Homo sapiens: one gene and its partner. The main gene of each other region encodes a partner of the protein of the gene in region 2 in a complex. Each region holds a gene or a part of one and is shown on either strand. Other genes may lie near its edges. The genes, in order: CHCHD4 and AIFM1. A codon is read from its position in the direction of its gene.

Region 1 (11,613 bases), on a different chromosome or scaffold from region 2:
AGAGTGTTAAGAAGAATGCAAGTGTTAGAAGTTTAGCTCAACAAACCTTCCTCAGCTCCAGCTCTGTGGTAGTACCTGGTGGTCACAGATGAATACGACACAGGCATCCAGTGGAGAAGACGGAAGGGGAGGGATCCTACCTTTGTCCCTGACAAAGAGCTTCAGGGAGGGAAGGAGGGGAATAGACATTCCAGAAGGAACCATCCTGGGCAAAGCCTGGAGGGCAAAAGGAGGGTTTTAAGTAGTGTTCGCTCACACGTGTTTAGGATTGCAAAAGGTTTTCTTAAGAAAGTGGCATTTAAAAGGATGTCTGAAGCCTCAGGAAGCCTTCTCAGACCCCATAGAGCCTTTCACTAAACGATCATAGCATGCTGGGCTTTTCCTTCATGTCACCTATGACAGTCTGTAATCATGCATTTGTCTGGTGATGTTTTAATGGCAATCTGTTCCACCATGCCAGGAGGGCAGAGAATGTGTCACCTTGCTCACCACTATATGCCCAATGGCTGGCACATCACGTGTGCTCTATAATTGTTGACTGAACAGGAGTTGGCAGGCTCTGCATTAGAAAGAGGAAACTAAGAAAGAAACACTATGGTGCTGACACAGGAGAAGTGTGGCTAGCCCAAGGCCCAGGTGCGAGGCTGAGAGCCCTTGAATGCCAAACCAACGAGTTTAACCTGAAGGCTGGGTAGCAGGTGGACCCCTGAAATAAACTTGTACAGGCAAGTGATTCACTCAGAACAGAGGGCAGGTAAATGCATGATTCAATAAAGATGTGGGCACCCATTGTACACCAAGCCCTGTGCTAGATGCTGGGGATTCCACAGCCCATCTGATGCTCTCAGCTTAGTGCGAGAAGACAGGCAGGAAGTAAGATGGCAAAAAATAAAAAAGGTCATTTCAGACAGTTCAGGATGTGAAAGACACAAAGGGTCAGGAGGTGATATTGGAGCTAAATGTTAAAGGATGAGGAGTCAGCCACGGAAGAGCTGAAGGCAGGATATACCAAACCAAGGGAATAGCCAAGAGGCTAGAGGCTGGGCAGCAAAAGGGTGGGAAGAGACCAGGCTGGAAAGGCAGACAGGGCCAGATCACATAAGCTCTGATACAGTAAGCAGTTTGGGATCATTTTTTAAAAATCCTATGGGAAGCATAAAGGATCAGTGGGGGGCGGAGGGGGGGAAGTTAGGGACTTCTTACGGGGACAGTGGTATGCACAAGATAAATACTAAGGAAGGCCTATAAGTGAGTGCTTTCAATTCTCACTCCTCTCCGAACTAAGAGAGATCTTTGAAGCAGGAAAAGATAGGGCTCCATGTTTTGGAGGCAGATGGACCTAGCCTCCCCTTTCCAGAGAAAACTGCCTCCTGTAAATCCTCAAAGAGGAGGGTCTTGTTTATCAGCACAGCCTCATTATACCCAAAGGCTCAAAAATTATTTGCTAAATGAAGTAAATTAGAGAAAGACTCGAAATTAAAAACAAGAGTGGTGAGGGCAGAGGACTTTTGCTTATGGCACACATTAAGTAGTAATCAGCGGAAATATAATAGTACTCATTAAAGAGTGAGTCTTATGGCTTTACGACCCAGAGGAGGAGAGGTTCTAGAAGCAGACAGCGCCACCAGGGAAAAGGCTCAGAATTTTAGGCTGAGCTAGTCTCCTAACTGGATGTGTAACTACAGGTAGGCCACCTCCTTCTCTGGGCTTCAGATTGCTTGAATTAACTGACGGAGCTGGAGTATTCACCAAAGAATTTCTGGGGGACTTCCAACTCTCTCTGTAGTTTTATAACCATCCATCCCCCTTCTCTGGCGCAGAGAAGGTGCTTCATGAGTATTTGCCGTATCAATGAAGCCCAACATCTCATTTTACAACACTGGATACCAGGGCCTGGAGGGGTTAGGTGGGAGCTCAGGGCCAAGGAGCCAGTTTGTGGCAGTGTGTGGGGAGGCCCTCCGACCTGTGGCTCGGGTACTTCTGAGCTCTTGGGTAGAGTAACATCAAGGAAGCAGTAGGTGGTCGGAGCTCAACTTTGGGGTGGGAGGTAGGCAGGGTTCTCCCTGCAATCCACTGGGCACTAGATTGGATAAGGCTCTTCTGGGGTCACAATGCCCAGGCTCAAACCCCAGCTCCACGATTTGCTGGCTGAGTGGCTTTAGCCATGTCTCCTGTGTCTAACTTTACTCTTCAGTAAAATGTGACCAACAACAGAGCCTGACTTACAAAGGTCGCAGCGAGATCTGTGAGACAAGCCAGGCAAGTTTCCTTGAACAGTGCCTGACAGGTAGCAGGGGGCTCAAAAACATTCCCGTTAGTGGAACTCCTAGCACTCCAGCACAGCACACGCTACCCCGAGTGGCAACTTTTCGGGACGCGCCTTTTAAAGGCGCGTGCAAAATGTAAACACGTGGGGTATGGCAGGAGCGGTAGTGATAATTAACCACCATACATTCCCAGTTTCGAGCCACACGCAACGTGCTCGGCACTTCCCGTGCCCCAACCGGACCTAGTTTACGACTTCCTACGCACAGGCCCCTCTGAGGTCAGGGTTCGGGCTTCACTGTGACCTTGGACCAGCCCCGTTCCCCCCAGAGCTTCGGTTTTCTCATCCGCAAAACAGGAGTAGCGACCCCCCAGCCGGCCCGCCTCCGAGTGTCCCAGGGTGGGCACCTGGGCCGCGCCTCAGGTGGCCCGCGCCCGGCGTGGTCGCGGGGCGCCGGGGCCCGCGTGTCTCCCGCAGGCCCTCGTAGGCCGGTCTCCGTGGCAGCCCGCCCTCCCTACCTTCCTGCCGGCAATAGGACATGGCTGCAGCCCGTCCCTGAGACCTTGCAGAAGCGGCGGTGGCGGCAGCTGCACCTTTACGCCGTGACCTCCCTCTCCTCTGGCAGGGCGGGCTCCTCCGAAGCCCGCGCGGACCCGCCCCCTCCCAGGCCTGCCCGCCGCGCGCCTGCCTCGGCGCCCTCGCAACCGCGGCCAGGCCAACCTCAGCCGGAAACTACATTTCCCAGCAGGTCGCGCGCTCCTCGACAGCTCTCCAGGCAGTAGAAACTACATTTCCCCGAAAGCTTTGCAGTGCGCAGGCGCATCAATGAGGTACTGCAATGTCCCGGACCGTATAGTTTCCAGGACGTCTCGCCGCGCGCATGCGCAGAAACACTGGGCACAGGGGGAGGTAACTGCAGTAAGTCCCGCTTGGCCCTGGAGTCCACGCGGATTTTCGAAGCTGGGGCTGGCAAGAGGCCGCTGGACACCACGCTCCAGTCGTCAGCCCACTTCCTAGCTGAACAGCGCGAGGCGGCGGCAGCGAGCCGGGTCCCACCATGGCCGCGAATGTGAGTATCCCCGGGCCAGCCGGGCCACACCCAGGCTTCCCCGTCGCCCTGGGGCTTTTCCCCGGGGTCCTCTAGGTCCATTTCGCCGCCTGGAGCTCCTCCGTGCGGCTAGGCCCGCATCTCCCTCTGCTCGCCGTGTCTGTGCCTTCGCCAGCTCATCCCTCTGCTCATCTCGCGGCCTGTCCAGGCTTCTTTTGTCCGTGTTCCTTGGCTCGCCTCGTCCTCGGCGTTCGTGCGGAGGCGGACTCGGAGGTGTTGCTCCCGTACTGGGATCTGCTTGTACGCCTCTCCGCGGCCCCTCCTTGCATTCCCAGTTCCCTCCTGTACCTTGGGGCCCTGAAACTTGCGCATTATGAGAGCTGGACGCGACCTCAGAGAGGGCGCCAGTCCCTTGGGAGGGAGGAAGGCGATCCAGCCCAAGTGGAGCTGTCCAGCAATGGACAGACAGGGCTGTCCAGGCGGGCAGAGAGCTCTCCGCCCTAGGGAGTCTCTGTAAACCGAGTCTGTGATGCTCCAAAAAGCTTAGGCTGGGCTGGGAGCGAAGGAGTTGGGGGAGAGGGAGCATTTCTCTACTGTCGGGGCCCCTCCTCCCCCTAGCAAGGATTTGGTTGGAGGAGGCCTGGCTGAGGGCTGTTCCCTCAAGGCCTCTTCTCCCTGCAACTAGCCTTTCTCGGGAAACTATTTAAGCCCAACATTCATTCAACAAGCAGCGCCTCCTACCAGGGCGCTGGGTGTGGGAGAAGCTGGTGACTCACCTCTCCCCTCCTCTGTGAAAGTGCTTCTAGGGCCCGCTTAGGAGCCCAGCCAGCCCCAGACACACCCTCCCTCCTGCTTTGGTAGAGTGTCCTAGCAGCTCTCCCCTTGCCTGTCACACCCTATTTCCAGACACCGCCTCTGTCCCCAAGCGTCCTCTCTGCCTCCCACACCCCTTGAGAGGCCAGGGTGTGCATCACCCACAGCCCTAGTACACTTTGTCTCGGGTTAGTATCATCCACACTCCCAGGACATTTCGGGCCCACAGGAGGGTTAGAAGCCTTGAATGTTGTACCTAGAAAAGCCTCAGAGGTATTCGGAGAGACTCAGGCTCGGCCAGGCGAGAGGGCAGTCAGGAGACCAGCCTGTCTGTAGTATGTGGACTCTTTGTCTGCTCCCATCACTACCACCACCATATTTTACAGATGGGGAACTTCCCTAGCAGGGGAAGGCACTTGCCCAAGCTCTCGTGGCCGGCTTGGCATGCTGTGACACGGAAATATGCTGAAAAGGGCAGGCTTTGGAGTTAGGGAGACCTGGGGGCAATCCAGATTCTTCCACCCAGTAGCTGTGTGGCTTTCATCTCTCCAGGTTTATGTAGCCTCATGGATCAGTTACTGTGATATTTAAGGGAGACTGCTTAGCACAGTGCCTGATGTGTGGTAGGTACTTAATACTTGAAAACAAGCCTGTCCTTGCAGGGTAGCACAAATGGTCCCAGTGGATAGAGATCATCTTGGGTACATTGAGACCTGACCCCTCACCAAGGAATATACATGCATTTGAGTATTCTCTGCTGCCAAGCATTTTTTGATTCATCCAGTAGCTGAGTACACATTTACAGCAGCCACTAGGCTGGGTGAGGAAGAAGATAGCGGGATGGAGCAGGGAGGCAACAAAATTCTCAATCAGTACAGCAGCAGCAGTACCTGTGGTGAAGGTACTATTCCCCTCTCCACTTTATAAGTGAGTAAACAGAATCAGAGAGGTAGAGCAATTTACCCAGGCTTACACAGCAAGCGATTGGTGAACCTAGGCATCAAATCCAGTTCTGTCCATTTCCAGGGCCTATGTGTCAGCCTCTGTTCCCACCACTCATTGCTCATTTCTTCTAAGTCCTGAGTGCTAGGACTGGGAGGGGATGTGTCACTGGGGATGTCCGTCTGTGTGTGCGTGTGTGTGTGTGTTTATATAATGTGTGTATACATGTAATACATACTATATGTATATATAAATATGTGTGGATATATAGATCCTTTATGATCCTCCATGTTTACTGGGAATTTTGGTTCAGAATGTGGGCTGGGTTTGTCATGTCACTGCCCACCTCACCCCTCCCCTAGCCTGAGGGGCACCCTCCTGTACCTCTCTTCCTTCCCTCCAAGGCCGTCTTTGAGCCCCTTATCTTGATGCTGGCTGAGGGGAGGCCCAAGAGGAAGACACGCCTTATTTTCCTATTGCTGCCTGCAGCTGGCTCCCAACATTCAGCTCACATTGTAGCCCAAGAGATGGGGAGCACAGACTGGAATGAGTAATGGGAGAGTAGCCTCCAGTCTGCCCGGATTTGAATCCTAACTCTTCCTCTTAGAAGCTGTGTGATCTGGGAAGATGACGTAACCCTGAGCCCGATTTTCTTATCGGTGAAATGGGGTCGTTATGACATCCCGCTCTTTGGGCTTGCCTGTGGGCTGGCCTGTGATAGACCCGGTGTGTTTGCCATTGTCATCATTGTGATGGTCACCTGCCCCTATGTGGTGATTCACTCACCTAATGTTTCCAAATGGCATGGAAAGTCAAGACGACTTCTGGATTCATGGACATCTGGTCACTGGAGGCCTTGGCTGGTGGTACTCAAAGACAATCAGAATGCGACATCAGCTTTGTTCAAGCAGAGATTCTGAGTCAAATCACTCCTCTGGCCCCCAATACCAGGATGGGGCCTGTCTTAGCTGGGCCCCACTTTACATCTTTGTGACTTTTGTCAGCTCACCCCCAGCCTGGTGCCAGCCCAGTATCAGTTGTAGGGAAATCTGGTAACATTTCTACTAGCTAACACGTGTCCAGTGCTTACCACGCCCTAGGCCCTGAGCTACCCAATAACTGTGTTCTTTGGTTCTCACCACAACCCTATGCACAGAGGAAATGGAAGGCACAAAGTGGTGAAGTTGCTTGCCCAAGACCCCGTAGCTGGTATGTGGCAGAGCATAAATGCAAACCCAGTTCTTCTGGCTCCAGAATCCTGCCCTAGACGATGACACTTTTGATCAGCAGTGGATGCACCCCAAATCATGCCTCTGTTATTGACCAAAGCCTGATCCACTCACCCTTGAGTTTGAGGCCCACTGTGAACCTGCCCAGAAATGCCTACCTCCAAGCCCTTTCTTCCTCCACTGCTCCCACCCAGCCAAAGCAGACAGGCAGCTGCTCCCCCAGAACCACTTCCTACTTCCTCATCACTGCTGATACGGTTCTCCCTTTAGGGATGCTCTTCCCCTAAGATCTGCCTCTAAGATTCCACTCAAGGGAGCCTCCTTGATACCCCAGGTGGAAGGGGTCACTCCTTGAGCACCAAGTCCACCCCCATCACAGGACCCTCTGTGTGACCTTCTAGTATTGTTTATGGTTGTGACCTCACTGCCCTAAGACTGTCTACTTCTGACCCCACAAGGGCTAGCACTGCCCTCAGAAAGCTCAGCCACTGTTTGCTGAATTTAATTAAAAATACATCTCTAATAACCTCTTTGTAAAATAGCTTGGCAGTTTCATAAAAAGTTAAACGTACATCTTCTTCACGAGCCAGCAGTTGTACTCCTAGGTATATTCCTACGGGAAATGAAAGCACATGTCTGCATAAAGGTTCATGTATGAATATTCACAGCAGCATTATTCATAACAGCCAAAACCTGGAAGCTGTCAAGATACCCATCCACTGACGAATGATTCAGCACACTGTGGTATAGTCATAAATGGAATACTACTCAGCCATGAAAAGGAACAAATTCCTGATAAACACCACAACATGAATGAATTGCAAAAGCAGTGCTCTGAGTCCAAGAAGCTGGGCAGAAAGGAGTTGGTGCCCTGATTCCATTTTTCTCAAGTTGTAGAAGAAACAAACTAATCTACGGTAGGAGAAATTCAAATTCAGATTCTCCCCATCCCCACCAGTTACCTCTGGTTGGTGGAGAGGGGGAGAATTGGCAGGAAAGGGGCACAAAGAAACTTTTTGGGGTGATGGAAATATTTTGTACCTTGCTTTAGATGTTGGTCAGATGGAATATACGTTTGTGGAAACCTGCCAAACTGTACATTGAATATCTGTGTGTTTTTACCACATACAGTTAAAACTAAAAAAAAAAAAAAAAAAAAAAAAAAATTGAGTATAAATAAATAGCAAATTTAATTTATTTTTAAAAACTAGTTTTCATTCTGTTACTGTTTCTTTTTCTTCAGTATTCCAGTACCAGTACCCGGAGAGAACATGTCAAAGTTAAAACCAGCTCCCAGCCAGGCTTCCTGGAACGGCTGAGCGAGACCTCGGGTGGGATGTTTGTGGGGCTCATGGCCTTCCTGCTCTCCTTCTACCTAATTTTCACCAATGAGGTAAAATGTCTGGGGTCTTCCTGTGCAGAGTGAGAGTCCCCACCATGTCAGAGAGCAAAGGCGATGAACCCGGAGGCTGGATTTGGTAATCAAGGGCCTAGATTTTAAAAAGAGAAAGGAGGATACTGAGTTAATCACAGTTCTTTCCATTGTGATCCATCCCACAGCTGATGTGAGCAGGAAGGGGAGTAGATCAGTTCACACACCTGAATATCCAGGGGTTAGCACCTGCCTCAGGCGTAGTTGGATCCAGGTGTTCATGCTGGGTCACCAGGAATCTCCATTTCTTCATCTTTTGCCTGTTTTTCTCTATTATGGTGTTTTTCTTGGGCAGGCACTTCATCTGTGATGGCAAATGTGGCCCCAGCAACTGGCCTACATCCAACCACTTAGCCCAGGGAAGAGAAAAACCATCTGTTTCTCTTCCTTTCTTTCTTTTCCTTTCTTTCCCCTCCCTCCCTCCCTCCCTTCCTTTGTTCCTTTCTTCCTTCCTTCCTTTGTCTCTCTCTTTCTCTCTTTCTTGTTTGTTTGTTTCTTTCTTTCTCTCCCTCTCTCTTTCTTTTTCTCCTTTTTTTTAATAGGGCCTCATGATGCAACAGTATATTTCTAAATCAATTTAGCAGCAGTTACAGGGCCATCTCTCAGTGTCCTGGCTTGGCTCTCCGTCCTCTGAATCAGTCTCCGTGTCCAGGGCGCACTCACATGTTCTGACTGGCAAGGTCTGGGTCCCATAATCTGACCAGGGTTCAGATAGACTCAGGTAAACCACATGGGCTGAGTAGGAGAGAGGAGAGCCAGGCATGGAGGCTCAAGCCTGTAACCCCAGCACTTTGGGAGGCCAAGGAGGCAGGATCGCTTGAGGTCAGAAGTTCGAAAGCAGCCTGGGCAACATAGCAAGACCCCATTTCTACAAAAAACTTAAACATAAAAATAAAATTAAAAAAAAGAAGGCAGAGAAAAATGGGGAGAAAGGGACAGGCAGGCAGAAACATCAGCTGTTCCCACCACTGGGGCAGTGCTAAGATTGGTGGGGGCTAGTGGGAACCAATGGGGCAGTAGGAAGAAGTCTCCCTGGGAAAGCAGGAATCTGGGTTCCAGTCCTTACTCTCCACTTGCTAGACCTCAGTTTTCCAACTGTACGGTGGGGAGATGGGTCTCAGCGCTCCCGGAGGCCCCATCCTACCCTAATACTTTGCAACAAGCACAGTCATGCTGAGCCACCCCTGAGCTGTTGAAATCCCCACTCCCCTTTGCTCCCAGGGCCGCGCATTGAAGACGGCAACCTCATTGGCTGAGGGGCTCTCGCTTGTGGTGTCTCCCGACAGCATCCACAGTGTGGCTCCGGAGAATGAAGGAAGGCTGGTGCACATCATTGGCGCCTTACGGACATCCAAGGTAGGTTTGGCAGGGGATGCTGACCTGCCAGTGGCTCGGGGCTCATCCTGGATGTTGTCTGGCTGAGGATTTGAAAGCATGGGCCTTGGAGATGGTCACACATGGGAGTGATTCCCGACTTTACCACTCAGCAGCTGTGTGGACTTGTCTATCCTGAGTCTCAGTGTCTTCGTGTATAAAATGGGGACGGTAATGGTTACAAGCTTGTGGCCAGCCTTGAGGATTTGGTGAGATTAGGTAACTAACGCCTTGGTACAGTGGCTGGCACTCAGGGAGGTGCTCTCATGACTCTGATGACCATGTGTGTCCAGTGCAAGGCCACAAAACTACCCTGGGCACCAGAGCTTTCCTGTTATTTGAACACCCTGTACGCTGTTGGCACCATGCCATTGGGCCATGCAGCCCAGGCCTGTACTGTGAGGGTCACAGTCACAGGCACTGTGTGTAAAGAACCTGGGACAGGGAGTGTCCTCGATTCTCCCCTGCAAAGCAGTGTAGGGCTCTCCACCCTTGTCCCCTTCTCTATTTCTTCCTCTTCCAGTCCAGCTTCCCCTGAGCCAGGCTTTCTGGGCTGACGTGAATGTTATCCTTTATTTTTTTGGTTTCTTTGATTCTGTTTGAAGCTTTTGTCTGATCCAAACTATGGGGTCCATCTTCCGGCTGTGAAACTGCGGAGGCACGTGGAGATGTACCAATGGGTAGAAACTGAGGAGTCCAGGTGAGCTGTTGGGGTGAAAACTCTGTTGGGGTAAAGGAGGAGTGAAGTGTAGGTGTCAGGATAACATGCAGATGTCTTTCATTTTGATACCTTTGAAACTCAAGTATAACATCTTCCTATCAGAAAAGTGTGAAATGATCCCCAAATTAATAGCCAGTGATTTGGAAGTGGCAAAAATCCAGTGAAGAGTGGCTCCAGGAGGAAAGGGGGATTGAGTTGCTCCCACATCTGGGAAGTTCCAGAGATGCACAAGCTTGAAGCATGACTTGGAGCAGGCCTGAAACACTGTCATTAGGATCAGCATGTCAACCCCGAGACCCCACTGCATCTCTCTGTGTTCAGCCTTCCCATCAGCTGTGTTGGTCCCATCTTTGCTCTACTTACAGCTTATCGTTTCTGACAGGAGTCCCAGGGCAGGTTCTCATTGATCAGGGCTGGGGTCACCTGGAGCTGGGGGTGGGTTCAGCCCCACCTGAATCATATGGACTGTGACCGACAGGTGGGGAGGTGGTGGGAGGAGCAGGAGAAGGGCAGCTTCAAGAGGCCCCCCGCAGGGCTGTCCTGGAGCAGAGGATGCAGCCAGATCTCTGAGCCCAAAGGGCAGGGCTGGGCCCCTTGGTGTAAGGCCAGTGCGGGCAGATTTCAGCTCAGGATGGGAGAGCGCTTTCCTCCAGGTAGCGCCTTGGAGGGCAGGAGCTGGCTGTCTGTCAGGAGTGAGTGCCCTGTCTTGGGGCTGGTGTAGAGAAGGCATCTGCCGTATCTGGGGAGTCTGATCTGGTAGCCCTGAGGTTGCTTCCTGCTCAGATGCTTAGAGATTAGACTGCCTGGGGCGACGAGGCTAACCCCCGTGGCTGCTTTGCTTTCCCTGCAGGGAGTACACCGAGGATGGGCAGGTGAAGAAGGAGACGAGGTATTCCTACAGTGAGTGCTGGGCCCCTTACGTGGTCTCTGCCCATGGTGGGGGCCCACAGTGGTGGCTGGACAGCAGGGCTGTTGGTGGGGCCATGGGAAGGATTCAGCACCAGGCATCAGGATCCCTGGGTGCAAGTCTTCAGAGCCCTGCTTTCCCACCCATCCATTGAGGCTCCCTGACCCACCCCTTTGGCTGTGAGATAGGAGGAGCTGGGCTGGTGGGTCTCAGCCGCGTGCCACTCCTACCCGGGCTCTGAGTTGATTCCTCTCCCTGAGCAGACACTGAATGGAGGTCAGAAATCATCAACAGCAAAAACTTCGACCGAGAGATTGGCCACAAAAACCCCAGGTGAGAGCCAGGCCCAAGGCCTGAGTGCAGCTTTGTCTACACTGGCAGGTCTCCAGCCTCAGTTTCTTCATCTGAATAACAGGATTGAGTTAATCCTGCCTCGTGGGTTGAAAATGTGGGACATGGGTTTGAGACCAAGCCCTGTGCTGGGCACCAGGAACACAGAGACTTGTCTCCCCTGACCCCAGACAAGCTCCCCGCAAACAAGTCACAAATATAAGGCCTGCACTAAGCGTCTAAGGGGATTTGCACACACGGGGCCGGGGAAGCATTTTGTTAATGGTTTGCCATGGGTGGGAGGACAATCAGGACAGGCTTTCCAGAGGCAGCGGCATTTGTTCAGGCTTCTCAGGATTTCAGCAGAGGGAGGTTAGCTCCACGGCATGCCAGTGGTGAGGCGGGCATAACACTTGGGTGTGGCTAGAGAGCAGGCCTTGTTCAGCAATGGTCTGGGCTGTGCCAGTAAGATGGTTGGGATGGAATGCTCTGGGAGGGGCTAGTGAGGGGTGTAAAGTCCATGCAAGATACATCTGACAGCAGTGGGTGGG
Region 2 (8,142 bases):
GAGATCATGCCACTGCACTCCAGCCTGGGCAACAGAGCAAGATTCTGTCTCAAAAACAAAACAAAACAAAAAAACCCCAAAACCACAACAACAAAAACAAACAAAAACAAAAACAAAAAAAGTTGTCAGCCCAATAAGAAGAATGAGTTCTTGACCTAAAGCGATCCTTAAGAAACCATATCCAAGTAATCATGGGAACCACAGTTTCTGGTACCCAGTTTTTTTAGGCAGTCATATGTTGGAAATTGGCAATGAGAAGGCAGGCAACATTAGAGCAAGTCATGACAGTCCCAAAGCCCTGACCCATGTGTGGAAAAGGAGAATCGGAACAGCCTTTCTTATATGGCTGTTTGGAATTACTTATTATTACTTTATTAATAAGTCTCCTACATCTACAACATTTTTACAGAATGCTTTCTCCAACTTGTAGCCTTCACGGAAACTTGGCTCTCTCTTAAGGAGAGCTTACACATAGAGGCTGTTCGTTCCCCCACACTCCACATCACAAGGCCAGGAGGAGGTGTTGGCATTCTGCAAGCTTCTTGAGGTTACTGGTCTGCTGCTTCCAGATTCTTGTACTTTCATTCTCTTCTGAGGGACATCAGAGGAGTCCTATATTCCTACGAATCACTGTTTTGAGCCACCTCCTGGCTACTCCTCCTGATTCACTGAAGACCTTGGAACCTGGCTCATACTTTTCCTCATCTTGTTATCTCCTAAACCTCTCCTCCTACCTCAATTATTCTACTTGTTGGTCACAATTTTCCATCCCTTCAGCTTTCGCTCAGTCTGTCTCCTATGCTTGCTTTCAATTTTCTCTGTTTATTTGACTAGCTGCTCCATTCTAACTAATTTGGGCCAATGGTAGAACACCCAAACTGTTCTTTTGCCAGTACCTTTAATTCCCTTGCACCCTACTCCTTCTTATGGTTAAGAGCTTGAGCTTTGGAGTCAGAGAGAATAGGGCCCCAGTCTTTGCACCACTCTTTACTAGCTGAGACCATTCAATTAAGCACCTACTATGTATCAAGTTGAGACAGTGATCCTTGCTGCTTTCAGAGTTTAGTGGCCAAGACAATTTAACAAGCACTAACAATAATCAAGAGTGACAAATGTGATGTAAGTGGTAAGAACAGTGCAGGTAGCGCTGGGAACATATGACATGTGCAATCTAGTCAGGTTGGGTTGGGTAAAGCTTTCTAGAGGCAATGACATGAACTGAGATCTGATGGATAAGCAGCTTCTTTAGCCTCCTTTGATTTGTCCTTGGTAAGCTCCCTCTTCAATCCAATCCCGCTACTCAACCCTCACGGTGTTCGCTCTCAGATAACCATCTTATGTTCTATTGTATTGCAAAAACAAATGAAGCCATTAGATGTGATCTTCCATAGCTTCCCATGAGGCATGAGGGCTCCCCACCACCCCCGTCCAGCCTATTAACATGCTTGTCCCATCCAATAGGTCCCACCTTTGATTCTATGTCCTCTTCACGCTTTTATCCGATTGCCATCTCTCTTTTCTCATTTAAATCTTTTGAAAGAGTGCTTTACCCTCTTTTCTAACTTCCCAATGGTATCTGTTTTATTTTATTAATTTTTTGAAATGGAGTCTTGTTCTGTCACCCAGGCTGGAGTGCACTGATGCAATCTTGGCTCACTGCAACCTCCGCCTCCTGGGTTCAAGCGATTCTCGTGCTTCAGCCTCCTGAGTAGCTGGGATTACAGGTGTGCGCCACCACACCTGGCTAATTTTTGTATTTTTAGTAGAGATGTGTTTTCACCATGTTGGCCAGGCTGGTCTCTAACTCCAGACCTCAAGTGATCCACCTGCCTCAGCCTCCCAAAGGTATCTGAACCGCCAAATCTCACAGTGCATTTTACGGTTCTTTTCTTCCCAGATTCCTCTGCCACGGTAACACTGTGGATCACATTCTTTTTCTTGAAACTCCCTACAACCTTGGCTCCTGTCCTCAGGTTTCCTCATACTGCTCTTTAAGTTCTTTCCTAGTCTCCTTTGTGGGTTCTTCTTAAGCCTGCTTCCTAAAAATTGGGGTTCCCCAGGGCTCTATCCTTGCCTTCCTCCTCTTCTCACCAGATCAGTTCTCCCTGGGAGGCTTCACCTACTCTCATGGTTTCAACTTCTACACATATGCAGATGATTCTCAGCTCTCTATCTGAGCCCAAGTCCCCTGGGCGTGGCAGTCATATGTCCAACTGCCCAGAAGACACCTTCACGCAGATATTCCACTTCATACTTAATGGTCCAAAACTGAATTTTATCTTCCCCCTTAAACTAGCTCTTCCTCTTGTAATGTCTTTCTCAGCTGTGGGTACACTGCCATCCACTCAGACATGCAGGCTAGAAATTAGAAAATCATCTTTGCCTCCTCCATCTCCTTCATCTTCTACCTTTAACCAACCACCAAGCCTCATCAAGCATGACTCCTAAGCATGCCTCAAGTGTGTTCCCTACTTCTCATCACCTTTCTATCAAGAAGTAATACTGGCTGGACACGATGGCTCATGCCTGTAATCTCAGCACTTTGGGAAGCCGAGGTGGGTGGATCACCTGAGGTCAGGAGTTCGAGACCAACCTGGCCTACATGGTAAAACCCCATCTCTACTAAAAAGACAAAAAAAAAAAATAGCCAGGCATGGTGGCGCATGCAGCTACTTGGGAGGCTGAGGCAGGAGAATCGCTTGAACCTGGGAGGCAGAGGTTGCAGCGAGCTGAGATCATGCCACCGTACTCCAGCCTGGGCGACAGAGTGAGAATCTGTCTCAAAAAAAAAAAGTACTGTACACTGTACACTGATGTTATTAATAGCTTAGGCTCTGGAATCAGAATAGCTGGGTTCCAATTCTGTGGCTCAGACAGACCCGGGCTCAAATTCTCTCTCTACCACTTACTAGCTATGTGAGTTTAGGCAAATTATTTAAAATTTATTTATTTTTAAAAATTTCAACTTATTTCTCTGTAAGAGGGAAATAATACCTACCTCATAAGATTATTGGGAGGATAAAATGAGATGGTGCACATAAAGCATTTAAGAACTGTGCTTACAAGATTAGAATAGGTACTATACAAATTTTACCTCTTACTTTCTTCTTCTTCTTCATCATCATCATACCACTACTATTCTAATTTGGGCTCTCATCATCTCTTGCCTAGATTATTGCAATAATCTCTGAAATGGTCTCTCTCTAGTCTTGTCTCACTGAAATCCATCCTCCTCACGGCCAATGGTGATTATTTAAAATTCAATTGCCTAAAATGCAACAGCTCCCCAGTGCAGAAAAAGCTCTTTCACGCAAAGCCCTCCACAATCAGGCCCCTTGCATAACTTCTCAGGTTCATCTCTTGCCACTTCCTAACTTGTACCTAACTGCTCTATCAGTATCGAGCTGCTTCTATTTCCTGGCACCAAACATGCTTTTTTGTGCCCTTGTGCTTTTGCTTATGCTGTTCTTTTTTACTTGGATGCTCTTCAGTCTTCTCTAGTCTGGTGAATGCCTCTTCATTCCATAAGATTGCCCATTCTGTAAGACCTTCTCCTCCAGAAAGCCTTTCCTGATGTCATCACTCTACTGGGCACCCTTCCCAGTATTTCCCACAACATACTGCGCAGATCTCTCTTACTACACACCTATGTGTTATGATTATGTATTTATGTTTCTGCCTAATACAGTTAGCCCCTAGAGGGCAGGGCCTGAATGTTGTTTACACATAGGGGACACTAAATGTCTCATTACCGGCTTATCAACAAACCTATATCCATCTTCTCTGTCTAATGTCCCCTTACAGGAGAAGTGAGTATGTTCCTAACGAAGGACAATCCTTCCACTTATGCTGTGTATCTCATCTACTCTGGGCTTTGCTCCTTCAGAGAATGCGTCCCTATTGGAACACTGCCATTAGTTTACACACACACTCTAGTACCTGCCATTAACAACAATAAAATATAACAAAACCATCCTGGGACTCCACAAATACCTGCTAATAACTGACCTTATTACTCAGACACTCACCTTTTAAAGTCTAACAATATATTCCGTGCTGAGTTATGCCCAAATTATTTTACTATGAGTAATACATATTTGTCAATCTTTTCTCATCGATAATCCCAGAGAGAAGTTAGTGTGGGAAAACAGGAAGGATGAGGAAGGGCAGAAGAGCAAATAGGAGAGATAACAGCTTTTAGGGTCAAGTTGAGTCAGCATGCTAACCTAGGCTTTGATACTAGTGCTTTCCCCAGAAAGACACACTCAGCATTATTAAACCTAAAGCAGCTCGATCCTTCTTTGATGAACTACAATGGCAGGACAGACATAAATGGTAATGGAAACACACATCACCATACTGGCTGGTGGGCAAGTACGTAGAGCCTGACAAAAGAAGCGGTCTACTAGCTCACCTTCTTCCCAGTGAGGACAGCCACACCACCATTCTCAATATGAGGCAGGTCCTGAGCAGAGACATAGAAAGAAGGTGGCTGGAAATATATGCTGTATGGAGAAGAGAGGGAGAATATTATAAGCATGTGGAACTGTTATCAGCTTCCCCCGTAGCTTTAATAAAACTGTTTCCATTATCAGAAACTTTAAGGGACGTTTTCCAAAGTAAGTCTCCAAGTCTATTAAATCATGGTCATGACTTGCTTACATACAGGTATCCAGATCAGTGGTTCTCAACTTGGGGCAATTTTGCTCCCAGGGGATGTTTGCCAGTGTCCAGAGACAATCTGGGTTGTAATAACTTGGGTAGGGATGCTACTCATATCCAGTGGGTAATGGCCAGGGATGCTGCTAAACATCCTATGATGCACTGGACAGCTCCCCACCCCCAGCAAAGCGTTATCCTGCTCCAAATGTCAATAGTGCTGAGGCTGAGGATCCTGCTCTAGATTTAGGTTCATTTCAAAGTAAGAACAAGTGGAGCACCCAAAGAGCTGGTATTCACATATCCACCCAAATGGGTTGTCCAGAATGGTGCTCTTCAATGGAACAACTAATTATAGCTCCTGAGAAGACTCTGCCTCAAGCAGTTATCAACTATGATATATTAATATTAATTAGTTAATATATTAATATTGGCTGAGTGCAGTGGCTCAGGTCTATAACCCCAGTGCTTTGGGAGCCCAAGTTGGGAGGATCACTTGAGGCCAGGAGTTTGAGACCAGATTGGGCAACATAGCAACATCTCGTCTCTAGAAAAAAATTTTTTTAATTAATAAAAGGCACGTGGTGGTACGCACCTGTAGTCCTAGCTACTCGGGAGGCTGAGGTGGGAGGATCACTTGAGCCCAGGAGTTTGAGGCTGCAGTGAGCTATGATTCGGCCACTGCACTCCAGCATGGGTGACAGAGCCAGACCCTGTCTCTCAAAATATGTGTGTGTGTGTGTGTGTGTGTGTGTGTGTGTGTGTGTGTATGCATATGTATACATATAAAGTTAGCCACTAACTTAATTGAAAGTATACATCCTGTTTGAAAATGGAACTAGTGGGGGTGAGGGAAAAGGGTAAGTTTGTAAAATTTGGTCAGGTATCAAAGGGGTCACTAATGAGAAAAAAAATTGGAACCCAAAGAACATGGTACTAGAATTGAGATCTAAGTTGTCCATCAAAAGGAAAAAGCTTCTGGACCTGTATCTCCAAGTCTGTCGTGCAAAAATTCTAACACAGGCTCTTCCTTACAGCCTTCCTACTCTACTCCTGAAATTCTAAATGCCTGCTAGGCTGTCAAAGAGAGTGCCGTTAAAAAGTTTCTTTTCTTCTGCTCTTGTAGGACATGTCTAGGCAAGTATAAAGAAGTGATGGCTGGGGGCAGTGGCTCACGCCTGTAATCCCAGCAATTTGGGAGGCCGAGGAAGGCGGATCATGAGGTCAGGAGATCGAGACCATCTTGGCCAATGTGATAAAACCCCATCTCTACTATAAAATACAAAAAATTAGCCGGGTGTGGTGGTACGTGCTTGTAATCCCAGCTACTTGAGAAGCTGAGGCAGGGGAATTGCTTGAACCCGGGAGGTGGAGGTTGCAGTGAGCTGAGATTGCGCCACTGCACTCCAGCCTGGTGACAGAGCAGCAAGACTCCATCTCAAAAAATAAAAATAAAAAAAGAAGTGACAATACAGGCCAAGTTGATCTTCACCTAAAGAAGCTTAACATAAAGGTTCCAGAAATAGGAGCATTAGTATTTCAGAGGCCAACATTACACCATCAACTGTTGGTAGATCTGGTAACAGAATCCAGGACTCTTGCCCTTTGTAGACTGTTATCTCTAAGCTGTACCAAGTGTGGACCACAGTAGACTCTAGTGGACAGCCAAGCCATCCCTCCTATTACTGTACACAGTCAGTGGCAAAATCCTAACCTATTCTCTGTGCTTAGCTGAAGTTGATAGGCTCATTTTACATAAGCAAACACACCTTCTCTCTTTTCCATTCCACTGTTTGAATCGCAGTGTCTTTGTGACATTTGGGTCATCTGAAAACCACAGTTCTTTTGAAAGAGGAGGTCGCATGTACGGCAGCTCAGGATCTTCAGATACAATCAGTACCTTCAGACATAAAAATCATGACGCTTATCAGAGCCAAGTCATTTAAGGGGCAAATGTCAAAGCATTCACATTAGCTAAATGCTTGCAGACTGTACCCTCTGTGCCAAGCAAAAAAACATGCACCTTACCCTGGCCCCAGGATCCCGAGCCCGGATGGATCTGGCTGCAGCAAAAGCAGCTGTGCCTCCACCAATTAGCAGGAAAGGAACATGACTTGGCGCCTTGTCTTGAGGAACTTCCTCTCCTTCTGAAGCTGAAAGCAACAGAACAGACTGGATGAATCTTCTTGAAGTCTCAGATGATTCTTTGCCACTGTTAAAAAAAAATCACCTTGCACTTGTCTCAATCCTCCACATAAAGCTAGCAAAACATATGACCTACGCTAATCTTAACAATCTTCACAGCATCCTGATGGGAGAGGAAAAGCAAGTATCCCTTTCATTTCATAAGTGAAAAATAGGAGAATGATTTCACCAATGTCATTCATTCATCAGGTCTGAACTGGTACTAGGACATAGCTTAAATATTTAGTTACTTCTAAAACATTTAGAAAGTATACATCAGTAGGCTTTTGCCCTTCCCATCAATTTCCTAGTGATCACCAGGAAAATATCAGGCTCAGTTTCACCTTCCGTTAGCAACAAAGGGAGAAAATCCAGGAGGTCAATTGGGGATTATCATACAATGTTCAAGAATAAGGGGGTGCTTTTGAAAAAAGCAGAACAAATTGCCCACCCAGAGTTGTGGGGCTTATTAAAGGATTAAAACAGTCCTCTCTGAAAATTGAAGTGAATCATGTGAAATGGAAGTGATGGCTAGGGTATGTGCTTTAGGAAAGCAAATATACCTTTAGCAACTCGAAACTGCAAAGACTCAAAAGGGGAACAAAACAGACTAGAAGAATTTCCTCATTTAAAAAACAGCTTTCGGCTGGGCGTGGTGGCTCCCACCTGTAATCCCAGCACTTTGGGAGGCCGAAGCAGGCGGATCACCTGAGGTCAGGGGTTTGAGACCAGCCTGGCCAACATGGTGAAACCCTGTCTCTACTAAACATACAAAATTAGCCAGGCATGGTGGCACACACCTGTAATCCTAGCTACTCCAGAGGCTGAGGCGGGAGAATTGCTTGAACCCAGGAGGCGGAGGTTGCAGTGAGATGAGATCGGGCCACTGCACTCCAGCCTGGGCAAAAAGAGTGAAACTCCATCTCAAAAAAAAAAAAAAAAAAAAAAAAAAGGTTTTCATCTCTTTTCCATCTTTTCCAATAGTTTTCCTTGCTAAGCTTGCCTTTTAAGAGACTTTTTTTTTTTTTTTTTTAGACAGAGTCTTGCTCTGTCACCCAAGCTGGAGTGCAGCAGCGTGATCTTGGCTCACTGCAACCTCCGCCACTTCAGTTCAAGAGATTCTCATGCCTCAGCCTCCCGAGCACCAGGGATTACAGGCGTGCACCACCACGCCTGGCTAATTTTTGTATTTTTAGTATAGATGGGGTTTTACCATGTTGGCCAGGCTGGTCTTGAGCTCCTGACCTCAGCTGACCCGCACATCTCGGCCTCACAAAGTGCTGGGATGACAGGCGTGAG

What was found.
Region 1: the proteins of AIFM1 (region 2) and CHCHD4 are in contact, whole or in part, in a cryo-EM structure (PDB 9GQZ), measured with the Homo sapiens proteins. Residues at the interface, in NP_004199.1 of Homo sapiens: Pro345, Tyr347, Ser500, Ser501, Leu502, Pro503, Thr504, Val505, Gly506, Val507, Phe508, Ala509, Lys510, Glu558, Asp559, Tyr560, Asn602, Ala605, Lys606, Phe608, Asn609, Ile610, His611; in NP_001091972.1 of Homo sapiens: Arg5 (codon at 2,794), Glu7 (codon at 2,788), Lys9, Asp10, Arg11, Ile12, Ile13, Phe14, Val15, Thr16, Lys17, His20, Thr22, Pro23.

Annotation. Positions count from the first base shown.
Region 1 is NC_000003.12:14,121,871-14,133,483, forward strand, and holds the start of CHCHD4 (mitochondrial intermembrane space import and assembly protein 40), read right to left. Parts: upstream 3,001-11,613; 5' UTR 2,807-3,000; coding exon 2,785-2,806; intron 217-2,784; exon of another isoform or gene 108-216; coding exon of another isoform or gene 47-107; intron 1-46. Other genes in the region: TMEM43 (transmembrane protein 43), read left to right, coding at 3,324-3,335, 7,542-7,691, 8,952-9,086, 9,710-9,804, 10,676-10,725, 10,993-11,065.
Region 2 is NC_000023.11:130,141,065-130,149,206, forward strand, and holds part of AIFM1 (apoptosis-inducing factor 1, mitochondrial isoform AIF precursor), read right to left. Parts: intron 6,813-8,142; coding exon 6,688-6,812; intron 6,560-6,687; coding exon 6,429-6,559; intron 4,506-6,428; coding exon 4,415-4,505; intron 1-4,414. UniProt on the Homo sapiens protein: Functions both as NADH oxidoreductase and as regulator of apoptosis.